2 separate regions of the Homo sapiens genome follow, and region 2 is linked to region 1. The links come from fine-mapping of genetic effects on gene expression. A gene starts in region 1. The other region holds a variant in brackets. All regions are shown on one strand. Distances are from middle to middle.

Region 1 (9,595 bases):
GACCATACGCCATGCACACTAAGATTCAAGAAAAACAGGCAGGTGTTTCTACTATCATCACCAAATCAAAAGCTACTTAGGGCAGACACCTGGATATCACATGTTGGTTTCTGATAGAATTGTGTATCCCACGAGCAACTCTGGATGGATTGCTCTAAGGTATATAACAGTAGCCAGAATGGTTCTTTTAATGATCCTCCAAAGCAAAGCAAGGAAGGCCAGCTTCTGAAAAGATAAATGTAAAGTGAGTGCCTAATGAAGTGCGTGGGACACAAACATGGCCTCCTTCCCCGCCAGCTCACCACAATAGATGCGTGCTTATCTCTCTGTTACCTGTTCATCTCACATCCAGACCAAGGAACTGTGTTGCAAAAAGCACTCCTTCAGATATGGAGGACCAGGTATGTCCTAGGTAGGCCTTGACTAGTGGGAAATTTTTCTTGGCTTTTAAGGTACAGGAGAGCCCCTTTGGTGAGGCTGATAGACTTTGAGGGGTAAAACATTTCTTAGATTGTTTAAATGACTTTCAGTCTTGGCTCAAAACTGATGTCACACTAGAACCATCTTTTGCTGATCAATTAGTTCAGGGCCACATCAAACAAAATGGCATGGAATTTATTTAACATGCTAAAGGGGAAAGACTAGTACCTTATAAACTAATGTTTAGTATAGTTACACTAGATGCATTGGTTTGAGCTATGATATGGCCTGATCTTTTTTTTTCAAGTGACCTTTTGAAGGTGGAGCCTAATTTTTCTCTCCTTGAATGTAGACTCTACACAGTGACCAGCTTCTACAGAATAGAATATGGAGGAAGTGAAGGTGACCTTTGGGATTAGAACTTGCTCTGGGGGAAGCCAGCTGTTCTGTTGTAAGAACACTCGAGCAGCCCTACAGAGGGGTCCATGTGACATGTAACTGAGGCCTCCTGCAAACAGCCAGCAAGGAATGGAGGCCTTCATGTGAGTGAGCTATCACAGCCATGTAGATGAGCTATCTTGAAGAGAATCATCCAACCCCAGTCAAGCCTTCAGATGACTGCAATCCCGGCTGACATCTTGACTGCAAACTCATGAGAGATCCTTTTGAGTTGCCCCCAAATTCCTGACCCACACAAACTGTGAGATGTTATCTCAAGCTCCTTATTTTTGGAGTAGTTATACAAAAACAGACAACTAATAGAGGGACCCTTTTCCAAGACCTAGAGCATTATAGCTAGGACCCTCTTAGGCGCCAAGCAAAGCATACAATACCGCATTTTAGTTAGATGTGTGTGTGTCTGTGTGTGTGTGTACACGCAAGTGCAACATAGAGTGTGCAACTTCATTGTACAACTCAAGGAATTTTTGCCTATATAGTATATACCCATATAACTACCACCTAGGTCAAGATGTGGAACATTTCCAATACCCTAAAAAAAATTCCTTCATGTCCACAACCAGTTGATAGCTCTTCCTAGAGATTCACCACTTTTCTAATTATTTAATATAACTATGGATTACTTGCCTGTTCCCGAACTCCATAAAAATGGAATGTTTCACCTTGCACTATTTAATGTCTAGCTTCTTTCACTCATCATAATGATTTTAAAATTTATGCTGTTGTTACGTTTCATTAGTTTGTTCCTTTCATTGCTAGGTAGTATTCCATTGTACAATTATATCAAATTTATCTATTTCCCTATTGATAAACATTTGGGTTGTTTCCAATTTGAGGCGATTATGAGTAGAACTATAAATTTTCTTATAGCAGTCTCTTTGCAGACCTTTATGTTCAATATTCTTGGGTAAATTCTTAGGAGTGGAATTGACGGGTCACAGGGTATATTTTTAAATAACAGTTTTCCAAAATAGTTGTACTTTTATATGCCCACTCAAAATAATTTTTTTCATTTGAAGCAAATCCAATTTAAAATAAAGAAAGACAAAAGTTGGTCTTAATGAAAAATGAACAGCAATGAATAAAGAGCTTCCTAAATTACTTGGAATAGTCAAGGAAACTCATGTGTAAGGTACAGAGCTATCTGACAGCAAATCCTCCAGGCAAACACTTTGATTTTGATCATTGGTTTGGAAATAATTTTAGTCACTTAGATAAAAGTTTTTCACAAAGATGAGTCAAGCAGGGGCCCAAATCCCAAGAGAAGAAGAATTTACATAAAGCATCCTCCAGATGAGTTTTTCACTCTGTTAAATGGATGACCCGAAGGGAAAAGAAAGCCTTCCCACGTGGCACCCTTGTTTACTGGGCCAGCTCAGCACTGTGACAAATGAAGCAACGTCTTGATGCCTAACGCAGCTCGCCTGCAGGCACTGATTCGGCTTTGTGTCTCGCCTGAGTTCTGCTTCAAATAAACAGATCGGGGAAGTTTATTAATGATGCACTCTGGGGCATCGGGCTGTGATAGGCAGCAGGCGCTGCACACAGCCCCAGTGGCCAGTCTCCAGCTAGTACAAGAGGCAGCTCTAAGTCCTGCCTGTTTTGGAGACATCCTGACACCCATGGTGTTGTTTTCGTTGGTTGTATGAAGTGGGAAAAAATGAAGACTGGAAAGCCAGAATAGCAACTCCAATCTCAGCAACTTCAGGGGGATGCTCAGAGATGCTCAATGCAATGTTTTTCTATTTGGAAAATTTCGAAATTGGCAACAACCTAGATGCCCAAAAATAGGAAATGGTTAAATAAAAGCCCCTCTCCCTCCTGCAGACAGTGGGAATCATTGTGTTTGAGAGCCGAGAAATTAAACAATGAGGCCTTAGAAAAATCCTGAGGCAGCAGTGGATTGAGCACAGGGTGGGGGTGGGGGGCAAAAAGAACACCAGATTCAGAGGGCTCTAAGTGCATCATAGGCAATTATTTCCAGACCATTCAGGAATAAACCAACGCAAACCAATGAAATTCTTATGACTTTCATTATTATAAGTGCCCTAGCTTCCAGGGGGAAAGGAGTAAGAAACTTTTTTTTTTTTTTTTTTTTTGAAGACAGGGTCTCACTTCCAAAGTCCAGGCCAGCTTGCAATAGCACTATTACAGCTCACTGCAGTCTCAACTTCCTAGGCTCAGGTGATTCTCCCACCTCAGCCTCCGGAGTAGCTGGGATTACAGGTGGGTGCCAACATCCCCAGCTAATTTTTTGTATTTTTAGTAGAGACAGCCTCACCATGTTGCTCAGGCTGGTCTCAAACTCCTGAGCTCAAATGATAAGCCTGCCTCAACCTTCCAAAGTGCCGAGATTTATAGGCGTTGAGTCACCACACCTGGCTGAAACTGCATGTTTTTGAGTACCTACCTTGGGTCAAGCACTTACCAAGTATTAATTGACAATCCTCACAATGGCTCTGTGAGGTAAGTACCGTGGTCCTCATTTCAAAGATGAGCTCTGCCTCAGGAAAGCTTAAAAACTATCAGAAGTTTCCTCAACTAACAGGAGAAAGACTCAGGATTCAAACTCCAGTCTTTCTAGGCCAAGCTGTTGTTCTAGATTTTACTGACAGCAAATAAAGTTTAAAAGGAGGTTTTAAATGGGCAGCTGCTACCCTTAGCCACAGGCAGGAGCCCCATGCTCAGTTTGAGCAGAAAAATGGGCTTCCCCTTGAGTTCTCCTCTTAATAATGAAATGGCTCTCCACTGCCCAGTTTTTAGCTTGTTTTCCTATGAAGAAGTTTGAATAAGAAGCCTCTTCCCATGAAAGCATTGCCTTCCTGAGCGTAGTGACCAGCCTTGAGCTTTACATGGCAGTGACTTTTCCTGCTGTCCCCATCCAAACTGGGGGGGATAGCTTTCCTGCTACCTAACTCAATTTTCTAATGCAAAGGAAAAGCAACCTGCCTTCTTCATTCACTATCTTATTTAGAGACATTCTCTATACTAGAGTCCCGGGGTTTTTATAAGCCACACAAACAATAATGCATTACTTCAATTATTATCTATTGTGTGTTTTGGGGGCTTCTTGATAACAGCAGATTGGAGCACACTTGGCTGGTTTGCCCTTATTAAACCGTGAAGGTCACTTCTCTTCCAGGGCCTGTAATCAACGAGCCCTCTCTTCTCTTCCACAAATGCATCTCTTCCAGAGCCTTTGCAATTATGGCTCATTTCTCTAGGTTTCATATGGCAGGCGTCTGAACAGAATTAAAAGCATGAGCACGTGCAAAAATAATCCGCTTCCCAAGATAGTAAATGCTGAGAAGTTCTATATTAGAACACACTGTGAGTGCTGACTGGCTAGGGCATGATTAACCTAATAGGCTTAAGCTGCACTTGCTATCCACATCTGTCAGGACGCGAGCAAAACACAGGCCCGTAATCCACCAGGCTGGGAGCCTTCAGAATTGTCCCGCTGCTCACTAACAGCAGAGGGTTCCAAACTTAGAACAACAACAGGACGACAGGTACCACTCCCTCTTCACATTTGGACCAAGAAAATAAAGAAAGCTGGTTCCAAGTTTAGGATATTGTACCATGGACTTCAAAGAATTCTGGCCTGAAAATTGCCTGGATGGACTAGTAAGATTGCCTTTTGTTCCTATTTCAAATATGATTCTTGGAAAATTGTGAAGGTGGGTGGAAGATGACTACAAGCTGAAATCATGGGGTGTACACCTTCACACAGTGACCTTGTAAACAGCGTTGCAAAGAGTGGCATTCAGTTCTTGAAAAAGCCCAAAGCAATTCGGCCAGGATGTCAGGGCGGAAGTGAAAGAGGTTCCATCCCTTTGCTGGTTAAAAACTCCACCTGCTATGACGCTGGGGAGGGCCTGGCAGAGGAGCAGCCAAGTCCCAGGAGGAACCAAACCACAGCTAAAGGTCTTTGTCAGCTCATGGGAGATCCTGCTTCAGGCAAAAGGAAAGATATGGAAGGACTGATCCCAGGAACCAAAACCTCTTCATCCCAGCTGAACAAATCACAAAGCCACATGGCTAAGGATATTCCGTTCAAGACACAGGGTTCCCATGGATCACAAGGGGCAGACTTTTCTGGAGATGAGAGTGAGGAAAGTAGTACCCAAGATACTTCCAAATGGAAAAGGACAGCAAAATGTCACACGTCAAGCACACAGAGCCACTGCTACCAAACCATCCACCCTGCTCATGAGCCTGAAGGCAAAGTGGACTTCCCGGAGCCTCTGGTAAAGGCCCACCAGCAGGCTTACACCTATCTACACTCCAGCCTCTCCAAATATGAAGCAATTCTGTGCATCATCCATCAGGCCACCCAGACCCGGGAGCTGCTGCAGCCCATGGTCAGCTTCTTGCTGCTGTGCTTTGAGGAGATCAGCCAGCTGTTGGGGGAGATCTCCAAGGATGGAGAAGTGCTCCTGCAGGAAGTCAGGGAGGATCTGGCTTGGCCTTTGAAGAAAAGAGAGCCCCAGGAGCAGCCAAATCTCCTGCAACAGCTGCTACAGTACACAGTCAGCAAGCTGCAGGTGCTCAATGGCACAGTGGCCTCGCTCACCGGCAGCTTCCTGGAGGGCTCCAGCAGCTACCTCCACTCCACTGCAACCCACTTGGAAAATAAGCTGAGCACAAAAAGGAATGTGGATGAACGCCTCCTGAGGGCTCTGAGGCAGCTAGAGAGCCTGGCGAGTGGCTGTGGCGACCCTGGGGTGCAGGGTCTCCCCTTATGCTCTGAGGACAGTGGCATTGGTGCTGACAATGAGTCCGTGCAGTCGGTGGACAAGCTGGGCAAGCAAACCAGCTGGGACCTTGCACCAGAGCCCGAAGAATGGAAGTCGGTGACTTCACCCCACACAGAGGCCAGGCAGTCAGGACACACCTGGCAGCAAAGTCCATTCTGTTTGGGCTCAGGCAGACCCCAGGACTGCCTGCTCTCAGGGGCTCCTATGGCAAAGGTTCAGCCACGAGCACAGGACGAAGCAAGGAGCCCATGCCTCTCCAGTACAAGCCCAGAAAATATCACCTCCCCACCTTTGAAGCTGGGGACAAGCACCCCATGTGATTCCTTTGGGATTGGGGTCTCTGTGGAACCACACCTTTCCAAAACCTCCAGGCCGATGGACGCTTCATCTCTTAGTGACAGCGAGGACAGCAGCCCAGAGGAGGAGGAGGAAGACAAAATGAGCAGCATGAGTCTGTGTGCCTGGCAGGAAAAAACTCCACATTCAAGGCCACAATCTTCACCTGCTGACCGGGAAAGCCCATTTCAGGCCCGCACCAGGAGGCTTAGGAGCCTCCAGGCCCAGGAAATGATTCTGAAGATGAAGGAGTCAATCAGCGAAAGGATCAAGTTTGTCCCTGTGCCCTGTGGGCACCAGGACTGGTCTGAGGAGGAGGAGGGGAGGACAGTGGTCCCCCCAAGACCTAGCACGGTAAGTGGCAGCAGGAGGGCCCCTGAGAGGCAGACGAGGTCCCAGTCAGAGTCGTGTCTCCAGAGTCACGTGGAGGACCCCACCTTTCAGGAGCTGCGAAGGGTCCAGAGGGACCTCAGTCAGAAGCTGGAGGCATTTTATGCCCTGGGTGCCAAAGGGCAGGGGCAGAGCCAGGAGCAAATTCTGCAGCCCAGAGCAGCCGCCGTGTGGCCCAATGGCACCTGCAGGGTCAGTCCAAGCAACACCACCAGCAGGCTCAAGGCATCCCTCACCAAGAACTTCAGTATTTTGCCTAGTCAGGACAAGAGCATCTTGCAGAAATGCAATCCCCATCCTGAGGACGAACAAGGCAAAGCTGGGAAGCTTCCAAATGCCATCCCATCAGGAGAGGTCAGTGAGGCTGCCAAGGCCACAGACTGGAATGTCAGAGGCTGTCCCACCAGAACATCCGTCAAGAAGCTTATTGAAACTTTCAGTCCCACGGAGAGTCTGAGGATGCTGGGGGACTCTAAGGACGCTGGGGCAAGTCCCTGCCTCAGGAATTGCATCATGCCCCCCAGATTTCCCAAGTACACAGGGCTTGCCCCTTTGTATCCGAAGCCCCAAATTTCTCCAGCATCAGGCAGAGAATCTCTCAAAATGGGCATAGGCTGGAAGCCCTTAGCACCTATCTTTCCCCCTCTGCCTAAAGCAGAAGCAGCCAAGAGTGAGGAGCTCAGCTGTGAAATGGAGGGGAACCTCGAGCACCTCCCTCCACCGCCTATGGAAGTTCTGATGGACAAATCATTCGCTTCTCTGGAGTCCCCAGAAAGCAGCAAGTCCACAGAGAACTCCCCCAAGGAAACCCAGGAGCCAGGGCCGGGAGAGGCTGGCCCCACCAGGAGAACATGGGCTTCCCCAAAGCTGAGGGCCTCTGTGAGCCCCCTGGACTTGCTGCCCAGCAAGAGCACCGCCAGCCTGACCAAGCCTCACAGCACAGGGCCAGGGAGTGGCAGGAGCAGCTGCCAGCCCAGGAAGCCAGCCCTGGACCTGAGCAGCCCACCAGCCACCAGCCAAAGCCCCGAGGTGAAGGGTGGGACTTGGAGTCAGGCAGAGAAGGCCACCAGCCTCTACAGGCAGCCCCGGAAGGCCATCGCCTGGCACCACTCCGGCCCTCCATCTGGACAAAACAGGACCTCAGAGTCCAGCCTGGCCAGACCAAGGCAGAGCCGAGAGAGAAGCCCCCCTGTGGGCAGAAAGGCCTCTCCCACGAGGACACACTGGGTGCCTCAAGCAGACAAGAGGCGCCGGAGCCTTCCCTCCTCTTACAGACCTGCCCAGCCAAGCCCCTCTGCTGTGCAGACGCCCCCCAGCCCACCTGTGAGCCCCAGGGTGCTAAGCCCACCCACCACAAAGCGGCGAACTTCCCCACCGCACCAGCCCAAGTTGCCCAACCCTCCCCCCGAGAGTGCACCTGCTCAGTGCAAGGTCCCCAGCCCCCCAACCCAGCACCCAGAAGCAAGCCCCCCTTTCTCGATTCCCTCCCCATCACCCCCAATGTCCCCTTCTCAGGAGCACAAGGAAACAAGAGACTCTGAAGACAGCCAAGCAGTCATAGCCAAAGTGTCTGGGAACACACATTCCATATTCTGCCCAGCTACCTCCTCTCTGTTTGAAGCTAAACCGCCACTCTCAACAGCCCACCCACTGACCCCACCATCGCTGCCGCCAGAGGCTGGGGGCCCTCTCGGGAACCCAGCAGAATGCTGGAAGAACAGCTCAGGGCCTTGGCTGAGAGCAGACTCGCAGCGGAGAGCAGCTCTGTGTGCCCTCAACCCTCTGCCTTTCCTCAGGAGGACAGCTTCTGACCGCCAGCCAGGTGGCCGACCGCAGCCTCCCACCTTGGACCCCACCAGCACCTCTTATGAATCCCAGCTCGGCCAGAACAGGTAAGGAGTGTCCTGGGGTCACTGCCCTTCAGCGGCTTGGACTAGAGAGGAACAGAGCGAATGGGCCAAAAGATCTTCTGGGTCTCAGTAGTTTTCAAACTGTGCTCCAAGAGAAGAGGCAGTTGGGAAAAAGGTGTAGGGGGCAGTTCCAGCTCCCCCACTCTCCAACCTTGAGTTACTGTGCTCTTATCTGTTACACATTCCAGCTGCCTAGGAAATATTTTAATTGAAAAGAGGCCCTGCTGTATTAAAAAAAATCAAGTTCAAATGAGAACACATGGACACAGGAAGGGCACACACCGGGGCCTGTTGGAGGGTAGGGAACAAGGGGAGGGAGAGCCTTAGGACAAATACCTAATGCATGCGGGGCTTAAAACCTGGATGATGGGTTGATAGGTGCAGGAAACCACCATGAAACAAATATATCTATGTAACAAACCTGCACGTTCTGCACATGTATCCCAGAACTTAAAAATATATATATATATCTCAAAAAAATAAAATAGTAAAGTTCAAAACACTCAAGTTAGTTCAACCCCACACACCCCATGTTTTACAGCTGGGGAAACTGAGATGAAAAGGCTTGCCCCTGTGGCTGGCTCACTGGTGCCGTGTCTCAAACCAGCAGCCTGGCTCCCCATGTTTCTGGTTCCCCGCAGGAGACCAGCATCTAGTTGGGAGGTTCTCAAGCTATTTGGTCCCAGGATGGCTTTAAACCCTTTAAAGTTATTAAGAGCCCAAAAGAGCCTTTGCGTGTGGAGGCTATATCTATCAATGTTTACTGTATTGGAAGTTAAAACTGAGAAATATGTAAAATATTTATTATTTTTTTAAAAAATACGTTAACACAAATAATATACTCTTATAAAAAGTGTGTATTTTCTTGTGTCCACTTTTTTTAAAGCTTTTATTTTAGGTTCATGGGTACATGTGCAGGTTTGTGATGTAGGTAAACTTGTGTCACAAGGGGTTTATTGTACAGATAGTTTCATCACCCAGGTACTAATAATACACAATAGTTATTTTTTCTGCTCTCTCCCTCCTCCCACCTTCCACCCTCAAGGAGGCCCCAGTGTCTACTGTTCCCCTCTTTGTGCCCATGAGTTCTCATCATTTAGCTCCCACTTATAAGTAAGAACATGCAGTATTTGGTTAGTTTGCTAAGGATAATTAATGGCCTCTAGCTCCATCCATGTGCCTGCAAAAGACATGATCTTGTTCTTTATTATGGCTGCATAGCACTCCATGGTATATATATGCATTACATTTTCTTTATCCAATCTGTCATTGATGGGCATTTGGGTTGACTCCATATCTTTGCTATTGTGAATAGTGCTG
Region 2 (9,595 bases), 21 kb after region 1:
TCTGGGACCAGACTAACTCCAGAAATCCATGGGGTTTCCGTGGCTTATTTCAAAGGGCTCAAACTGACCCAAGGGGAGGTAAATGTCTTGGAGCCATAAAACATCCTGGAACAGAAAGTCAGGGGCTTTGGAGTCAAACAGGCCTGGACACACACCCAAGTTTCAGCCACTTTCTTGCTGTCTTAGGACCTGACGCCTCAAAGTGTGGTCCCTGCCAGACTCACAGGATTGACCTCACCTGGGAATTGAACACTACAGACTCTCAGGCCCCACCCAGACCTGCTGAAGCAGAATCTGAACTTTACCAAGATTCCCAGGTGATTCCTGTGCACTGGCTGCGGTTATTCATTAAGCATCGCTGAGGCCCAGTTTCCTCATCAGGAAATGGAAGAAATAATATCTTCCTTATAAGATGTCAAGAAGAATGGCAGACCTGGAACACTGCAGAATTTAATGAGGAGGTTGGCTCTTCCTCTCGGCTTCCCTTTCTGGGCCCCCATCTTCCTCCCTCCATCACAAGGAGAGCAGGAGACTTATGGTCATTTCCCCCTTTCTTTTCCTAATGGCAGAACCAAGTTATAATAAGAGGAAAATGCTTTAGGCAAGAAAGCACTCTGCTCCCCTGCAAATCATCCCCTCTCCAGTCTCAAGAGTCAGAAGAGTGGAGGGGAAGGAACAGCCACAAGGAGAGAAGAGCTTCTGGGTTTTCTTCTCTGGGGGGAGGGATGGTTCTGAGGGCGTCTGGAGAAAGGGTAAGACAGCTGGAGAAATGGCAGGCCCCAAGCAGAACAGCTCCCTGTTTTCGTGGCCTTATGCTAAATGCTTTATGAGAATGTTCTCAGTCATCGTCACCACAGCCAGGTGTAGGTGGGCATTGATGTCATCCACACACTAGATTGATATGGAAAGATCAGAGAGGTTGATAGATGGGTCCCAAGCCACACGCCAGCAGGCCACAGGCCTGACTCCAGAGCCTGGACTCAGTTTCTACCGTCAACCCCAGAATACTCTAGGGCTGTGAGGTAAGGGGAGCTGGCAGGCCAGGAGCCCACAGGGCCTAAGCCATGGCCAGTTTCCTTTTTTATCTGATATTTTATTGTGGTTTTTGAATTCACCCAGCCATTAGAATCACCTGGAGTTAAAAGAAAAAAAAATACAGCTGCCTAGGCTTCACCTCAGACCAAGTGAATCAAAATCCCTGTGGGGTGGGGGTAGACCTCAGTATTTTTTAAGTCTTGCCAGATGATTCCGAAGCACAGTGAGAGGGTAGAAACGTTTATTATCTCAGCAGGTAGGAGATAATAAAGGGAGGAGAAAACAAGATGAGAGATTTTGTTCCTGGACCAAACTGAGGGTTGGGCTGCTATTTCTCGTGGCCCAGTAACAAGATGCAGATGAACTGGGGAGGAAGAGAGTTTTTTATTTCCATAACCGGTTACAGGGAGAAGGCCTGGAAAATATCGCCAGACCAACTCAAATTACAAAGTTTTCCAGAGCTTGCATATCTTCTAAGCTACATGTCTATGTGTAAGTGTGCACTCATCTAAAGACATAAGCGATTAATTTCTTTTAATCTGTAGCTAACATCTAAGTCCTGAAGACCTTCCTCTGGAGCCTCAATAGATTTACTTAATCTAAATGGGTCCAGGTGCTGGGGTGATTACCCTTATCTTGTCTCCTGCTAAATCCTGAAGGTTTGGGGAGTTCCTTCAGACCTCCAATAAACTTGTTTTTGGAGGCCTGGGGAGTTTCTTCAGACACCCAGTAAAGCTTGTTTAATCCTAAACAGGTCCCACTAAGAATTCCTTCATTATCTCATCATGCTTCAAGGCCCAGCAAAGGCCTAGGCAAACTCTTGGTGGGCTTTTGTTACATTCCAGCCTTTGTATAAGGCCACCAGCTCTCTCAGCTTTTAATGTTTAACTTAACCACTCAGTCAGTATTGAAACAGTTGTTATGGATGCCTGCATTAGTGATACCTGGCCTGCCACAATGGGACCTATAGGAAAAGTTTCCTAAAATCTCAAAAAAATTCTCCTTGATGTAAAAGGGAATCCTGGCAGTTACAGCTCTCAGACAAGTCTTCTGTCTATGAGTCTCACTCTGAACTGAGTACACTCATTTTTCTAAGAAAACGAGTTTTTAAAATTATTTCTCTTCTCTTTTCCCCATTTCCCCTTGTTCCCCACTTCCTACTTAGCCCTTTAGAAATGCAACTATACGGCACTACTCACAATAGCAAAGACTTGGAACCAACCCAAATGTCCAACAATGATAGACTGGATTAAGAAAATGTGGCACATATACACCATGGAATATTATGCAGCCATACAAAATGATGAGTTCATGTCCTTTGTAGGGACATGGATGAAGCGGGAAACCATCATTCTCAGCAAACTATCGCAAGGACAAAAAACCAAACACCGCATGTTCTCACTCATAGGTGGGAATTGAGCAATGAGAACACTTGGACGCAGGAAGGGGAACATCACACACCGGGGCCTGTTGTGGGGTGGGGGAGGGGGGAGGGATAGCATTAGGAGATATACCTAATGTAAATGACGAGTTAAGGGTGCAGCACACCAACATGGCACATGTATACATATGTAACAAACCTGCACGTTGTGCACATGTACCCTAGAACTTAAAGTATAATAAATAAATAAACAAATAAACATATATATAAAAGAAATGCAACTATAACCTTTTACCTCCCCTTTACCAGACACTCCCTCCAGGGCAGGCTCATCTAACTGTGTGCTTAGAAGCTCTAGAGCAGAACTTGCACCCACCAGGAAACTGCCTGGAGACACAACAGTCAATTAATAACCCAAAATATGCCCACTATGAAACTCCCTCCCACCCGGAGAGCTTCAGCCACTTTACAACCTAGTTCTGCCCACGAAGATGCCAACTTGACCACCCGTTACATAAGTCATCAAAGCAAGTATGTGGACTCCCCCACCTGCCCGCTTCCTCTCCTGCATGCCATTCGTGCCAGCACCCCCCCCCCCGCCCCTTTAAAAGTGCCCACTTTCTGCTCCAAAAACGACACAGTACCCTTCAAGGCAGCTTCTTCCCCTAAACTAGCTTTGGAATAAAAAGTCAGTTTCTTTATACCAGGCCTCCCTTTTGTTCACTGGAGTCTGCAAGCAGTGAGTGACTGCACCTGCATTTTTGTTACATGGAGAGAGAGATTGAGAGAAAGAGAATCTTCCATCATTAGAGGCTGTATTCCCACCCCCAAGAGCATCTCATGTAAGTGGAGTTCCTGGCCACACACAGAACCAAGCAAAGTATGTGTGGGCTTAGCTCCAGCCCCAGCTCTTAGGAAAATCTTCATGTCCCATGACAGGCCGTCCCATTAGATTCCCACAGGTATTCCCAACAGGCCCAGGGCCAGGTTACCAACATGCTGTCTTCCCTTCATTTTAAAAGTAATGAGGTAAGGAAGTCTTTGGAGATGGAAATTTCTCAAGGTACACCAGAGCCACCCAGTGCCTCCCAGCAGCGTCACACCACAGGTGTGGTTAATAAAACCTGAAATAATGAGGGAAAAGAGAACAGTGCAAAGATGTATTCTGCACTTTTCCACTGTTTTCAGCTGTTTTCAATGCCTCCGCCCCTGAGAGTGGGTGGAGGCCCATGGGATGGGAAGCTTCCTGTGTGAGAACACACATGGAAGGCAGGAAGACAGGACAGTACTGCTAAGCTTCATTTCTGCCGTCAAAATCCTTGCCAGACTCTACGTCCCTGGCCTCCTAGGGATCTAAAAAACCCTGAAATGTTCTGATACATTCTAGGATAAAAGCAGAAAATGCAAGTCTCCTCACCAAACCAAAAACATTTGCTCAGATGACAGGCAAATGCAATTCATTAAATTGTTCAACACTTAAAACATTTACTGTCAGCCTCTTGGGCATTTTTGGATGGCTGCCTGTCTAGCAGGCCTTTAACCTGGTTCAATCAGAATCAACAAAGAGCTAGATGGTCGCAGGGAAGCCCCTGCTGGGGTCACAATCAGGTGAGAAGCAGCTCACTGGGCTAGAATTACCCAAAGTCACTCTTAAGCCGCCTATGACAAGCCCAAGGCCCGGGATGACTCGCAGGCCCAACCTCACCCCAGGGCGTAAGGAGGGGCCGGACTAACTACACCTGCCACAGAGGCAAGATGGGAAAGTGGCTTCCTCAGCCTGGTGGGGTATGGAAATACATAAGTGAGTAGATTCGGGGCTTTCCAGAGCCAGACTCCCCAGGAGAGGCTCAGAACAGGGATGTGGAATGGATGTTAGGCCTGGGGGGCAGATGACAGTGGAAAGAGGTTCCACTGGGGAAGGGCAGGGGAGGGGGGTGTCTGCCAGAAAACTTGCTGGCATGAGGCTGGGCCCTCAGGGCCTCGGTCGTCTGGATCTGCCCCAGCACGTGGCTGCAGGCTGGGCTCCCCTGCAAGAGCTGGGATGCTGCCTCTTCAGCCTTTGCCTTACCAGGCCTGCCTTGCCTGTGCATTTGAGGTCATGGCCTTAGCTCTAACTCTTTCTGGTCACACAGTTGTTAACCTGCCACTGGCCCCAGCCAAGGCAGAGCCACTCCTACCTAAAGTGTCCAGAGCCTGAGCCCCAGACTTCCCTCTCCACTGCCGGGACTTCATTTCACTGGCTGTTCCCCCAGGGGCCAACACCTTCCCTGCTTCCACAAGTCCTGGCCCGTGCTGTGCCCACTCGCCCCTCCAGCCTTGTGATGTGGCCCACAATTGCAGCCTGTGCAGTTTCAGAGACTCGGCAGCATCTGCACACTGGTAGCACTTTACGCTCCACATGCATCTCCATTTAGGGTGTTTCAATGGCAAAGCATTGTCTAGTCCTCTTCAGAACTAGCCAGAACTCCAACTTCTAGAGAAGGCTTTTAGTGATGCAAATCTCAAATTCCCCTTGTCTTTTGATAAGCTGGGCCGATCAGAAGGTTCCCACAGGACCAACAGACACGTGCTGCAGCTTTTGCAGGGCAGAAGCACGATGTCCCTGAACACGTTTGTTACACTCACCTCCAATCAGGCCCATAACAAATGGACTGGATTCGATGACCAACTC[A/G]GGCTGCGGGTTTCAGGAGGGCTTGCCCAGCAGCTCACAGATGGGCAACTATCGTCTCGAGCGGGCTGCAGCTTGCAGGGCTGTGCTACCCTTTTTCTTCCTAACTCTTTGTCTCAACATTGTCTGCAACTGGTTTTGCTGCTGTCACATTTCATTTCGTTCATCACAAACCTAGTTACTGGAAAATTCTCTGTGATTAAAAAAGTACAAGATAATAAAACCTTAGAAAAATAAGTAATTCTTTTATTTCTACTTCAAAATATACCATGTACATCTGGAACTCTAAGGGGGAAAGTAACCAGGAGAATAGTCCATCAAAAAAATAAGATAAATAATAATTGCCCATTTCAGATCCATCTTTAATCCAGCTGAAAAGGGTATGAGCTGCCAGTTGTCTTGCTGTCAGGGGCCACCCCTCTGTCAGTGGCCTTGCGGCTGCCTCCCAAGGACTCTGAGTCTAAGAGTTCCTGGAGCGTCTTGAGGACGTGCTTTGGCTGGCTGGCGGCAAAGTCCAGCAGGCGGGAGCCCATGTGCTCCTGGAGGCTCCTGGACAGCCGGCACACCACCCCGCGGATGTTCCCGCTGGGTCCAGGCAGGGTGCCATTCCTGGTGGCGGTGTTCAGGAAGTGCCAGAGGATGGGAAGGACATGCCGCTCTACAGCTTGAGGCTTCCGGGGGTAAACTGAGGCCACCAGCACTGTCAGGCAGAAAAGGAGAGTCACTTGAGCCAGGCACTCTCTCCCTCTCCCACTTCCCTCTCTTGGGACACCAACTTTGTCCCCCAAAGGGCTGGCAGCCCAGCAGGCACAGCAACTAAGGATCATGACACATTTAGCAGCCTATGAAAATGTGTTAGCTTCTTTTAACATTAGTAGAAAATATATGAATATGTCCAACCTGGTTTATATCTGTGCTTATACCAACCAGTCAGAAACTATAATTTTTAAATATTTTTTATGGAGAAAGGGGCACGCAAAGGCAGAAATATGCAGAATCTCTGACAATCATAATGGTTCCTCCAGCCCAGGGAACAGGAAAGAGGCAGGCACGCCTGGTTACAATCCTGCCCCCATCAACTGTGTCAGCATGAGGAAGCCACCCGACCTTTCTGAGCCTTTTCCAAACCCATAAAGTAAGGATAAAAATGCTGAACCAACCTCTCCAGATTGTTAGAAATTCGATAATATACATAAAGTGCCTACCTGTAGGCAGGCAGGTGACAAATAGTAACTATAGTAATACTGCATTTATCCACATCACCACCTATGGAAGTCCACACAAATACAGAGAAAAACTACTGGGGAGGGAAATCAAGACCCTCTCACATGAAGCATGCTGGCAGACAAGACAGCTGGCAGGGGAGAAGCCTAGCACAGCCTCCCCGGTGCCCGGATGCCAAACCTCAGGACGAGACCAGCAGCAGAGGCATGAACGTGCTTGTGAACCAGCAAGCTCTGCACAGACCATTCCAGTGATAAGCCCCCATATCTGGTTTCCCAAGGCCCCCAACCCTCTCTAAACCCCGGAAAACCCAGAAGCCAGCTGAATCTGCCAACCAGCTCTTCATCACCTGAGTAAATGCCAGGGCTGTGGCCACATTAAAACCACATCAAGGGCTCTCCTGGGTCCCCAGAGGGGCTGCTCAGGCCTTCAGCTGTGGCCGCATTATCCTAAGCGCATTAGCACTATCGAAGCTGGCTTTGCGATTCACATGCTCTGCCTGTCATCCAGCCGAAGGATAAGTGCTGGGGCAGGCAAACAACACTAACAGCAGCGCTTTATTGATTCTGTGGGCCGGGAATTCTGTGGAAAACAGTTTCCATATCCTGGAAACTGCCTGAGCCCAGGGCTCAGAGCTTCACATCACAGCTCCATTTCATGCTCACAGCACCCCTGAGAGGCAGGATGCTTGTCCGTTTTCCAGAGGAGGAAAGCAAGACTCAAATCAAGGCAAAGGGCAAAGCAGAGGACAAAGGCCTAATCTGCCTGGACTCCAAAGTCCACACTCTTTCTACCGCATGCTGTCCCCAAATTTCTAGGGATTCCATATTTCAGAGGTGATCTGGAGCTTTATTTTTTGTTTTATTTATTTATTGAGACAGTGTCTTGCTCTGTCACCCAGGCTGGAGTAGAGTGGCACGATCACGGTTCACTGCAGTCTCGACCTCCTAGGCTCAAGTAATTCTCCTGCCTCAGCCTCCCCAGTAGCTGGGACCACAGGCATGCGCCTCCACGCTCAGTTATTTTTTTAAAAATTTTTTTTGTAGAGATGGGGGTCTCATTATGTTACCCAGGCTGGTCTTGAACTCCTGGTCTTAAGCAATCTGCCCATCTTGACCTCCCAAAGTGCTGGGATCATAGGTGAGCCACCTTGTTTTATTTTTCATGAAACTGCAATTTGTCCTTCCTTCATCAGGACCACATCATCTAATCCCCTAGGATACCTTCCCCTTAGAGCCCCACGGGTCCCTCTGATTTCAAAGCCAGCCTGGAATAAGGAGGAACCAGGGAAGATGCCCTGGGCCACCCTCTGGTCAGCCTGACACTCTCTTGGTGACATTTATCAAGGAATGTTGGCTTTGAGGCTGCACCCTTGGGGCTCTTGCAGGGAACCTCCGAGGGTCACAGGATCCTCAGAGGTGAAGGTGGTCCTGATAACTGGAAGGGCAGGACTGCACCTTTTGGGTCACCCCAGCATTCCCCAGGAAAGGATCCTGGGGTAAAGGGCTTGGAGGAGCTTTCTAAAGTGGAGCAAAGAGGTACACTGGTTGGAAAGAGTTGAGAGTTCTATTCCTTGTGCTTGAAACAGGCTGAGTAGGAAGAGAACAGGTGACAAGAAAGCAGTCCCTGTCAGCCCCAGGGTGGGAGATGAGGGGAAACTAGAAGGGGGACAGTGAGAGGGAACCAAAAGAAAACGAATGACCCTGAGTAGCCGCCTACACTGAATAACGATAACTCAAAAGTATCCTGAATCCCTATGGAATGCAAAAATAGGTGAGAACACAGAGATTTCTATGCCCGTGTTTATACCAACCTTTTTCACAATCGCCAAAAGGCAGAAGCAGCCCAGTGTCCATTGAGGAATGGATAAACAAAATGTGGTATATACATTTAATGGAATGTTTTTCAGCCTTCAAAAGGAAGGGAATTCTGGCCAGGTGCTGTGGTTCATGACTATAATCCCAGCACTGTGGGGGTCCCAGGTGGGTGGATCACTTGAGGTCAAGAGTTCAAGACCAGCCTGGCCAACATGGCAAAACCCTGTCTCTACTAAAACTACAAAAATCGGGCCAGGCGCAGTGGCTCACGCCTGTAATCCCAGCACTTTGGGAGGCCAAGGCGGGTGGATCACGAGGTCAGGAGTTCAAGACCAGCCTGGCCAACATGGAGAAACCCCATCTCTACTAAAAAAAAAAAAAAAATACAAAAATTAGCTGGGCATAGTGGTGCGTGACTGTAATCCCAGCTACTTGGGAGGCTGAGGAAGGAGAATTGCTTGAACCGGGACCAGGGAGGCAGGGGTAGCAGTGAGCTGAGATCGCGCCACTACACCCCAGCCTGGGCAACAAAGCAAGACTCTGTCTAAAAAAAAAAAAAAAAAAAAAAATTAGCTGGGTGTTGTGGTGGGCGCCTGTAATCCCAGTTACTTGGGAGCCTGAAGCATGAGAATGGCTTGACCCTAGGAGACAGAGGTTGCAGTGAGCTGAGATCTCATCACTGCACTCCAGCCTGGGTGACAGAACGAGAATCTCTCTGAAAAAAAAAAAAAAAAAAGGAAGGAAATTCTGACACCCGCTACAACATGGATAAATCTTGAGGACATTCTGCTGTGTGAATTAAGCCAGACACAAAAAGACAAACTGTACAGTTCCATTTATATGACATACCTAGAATAGCCAAAATCGTAGAGACAGAAAGTAGTTGGTGGTTGCCAGGGACTGGGGAAGGGAGGAATGGGGAGCTAGTGCCTAATGGGGACGTAGTTTCTGTTTTGCAAGGTAACAGTTCGGAAGATGACTGCAAAAATCATGGACACTACCACTGAACTGTACAACTAAAAATGGTTAAGGTGGTACATTTTATGTTGTGTATTTTAACACAATTCTTTTAATGGGGGGTGATATAGTTTGGCTGTGTCCCCACCCAAATCTCATCTTGAATTGTAGCTCCCACAATTCCTACGTGTCATGGGAGGGAGCCGGTAGGAAGTAATTGAATCATGGGGGCAGGTCTTTCCGGTGTACTTCTTGTGATAGTAAGTCTCATGAGATCTGATGGTTTTAAAAGGTTATAAGGGGGAATTTTCCTGCACAAATTCTGTCTTCCTTGCCACCATGTAAGATGAGTGGCATGATTGTGAGGCCTCCCCAGCAACATGGAACTGTTCGTCCATTAAACCTCTTTTTCTTTATAAATTACCCAGTCTCGGATATGTCTTTATCAGCAGCATGAGAACAGGCTAATACAGCAGGGAAAAGTGAGAACTATCTCAAGAGCCAAACCCAGGC

Direction of the effects. Alleles are on the strand shown, and positions count from the first base shown. SD is a standard deviation of normalised expression in the study named.
As copies of G replace A in region 2, the expression in skeletal muscle of the gene that starts at base 4,328 in region 1 goes up (small effect, 0.25 SD a copy in GTEx).

What was found. PIP is the estimated chance that this variant, and not a neighbour inherited with it, causes the effect.
Region 2: its variant is the best candidate, but not a certain one, in a credible set for the expression of PCARE in skeletal muscle (GTEx, PIP 0.56).

The regions. Positions count from the first base shown.
Region 1 is chr2:29,069,256-29,078,850 of GRCh38, reverse strand. PCARE (photoreceptor cilium actin regulator) reads left to right here and starts at 4,328. Exons shown (of 2, transcript NM_001029883.3): 1 at 4,328-8,257. The coding sequence starts at 4,590.
Region 2 is chr2:29,047,945-29,057,539 of GRCh38, reverse strand. TOGARAM2 (TOG array regulator of axonemal microtubules 2) reads right to left here. Exons shown (of 20, transcript NM_199280.4): 20 at 5,310-5,784. The coding sequence ends at 5,447. Among named protein-coding and RNA genes, the nearest start is that of PCARE, 22 kb to the left of the region's middle. RefSeq lists an enhancer at 4,075-4,585. The variant A/G (reference allele first, on the strand shown) is at 5,088.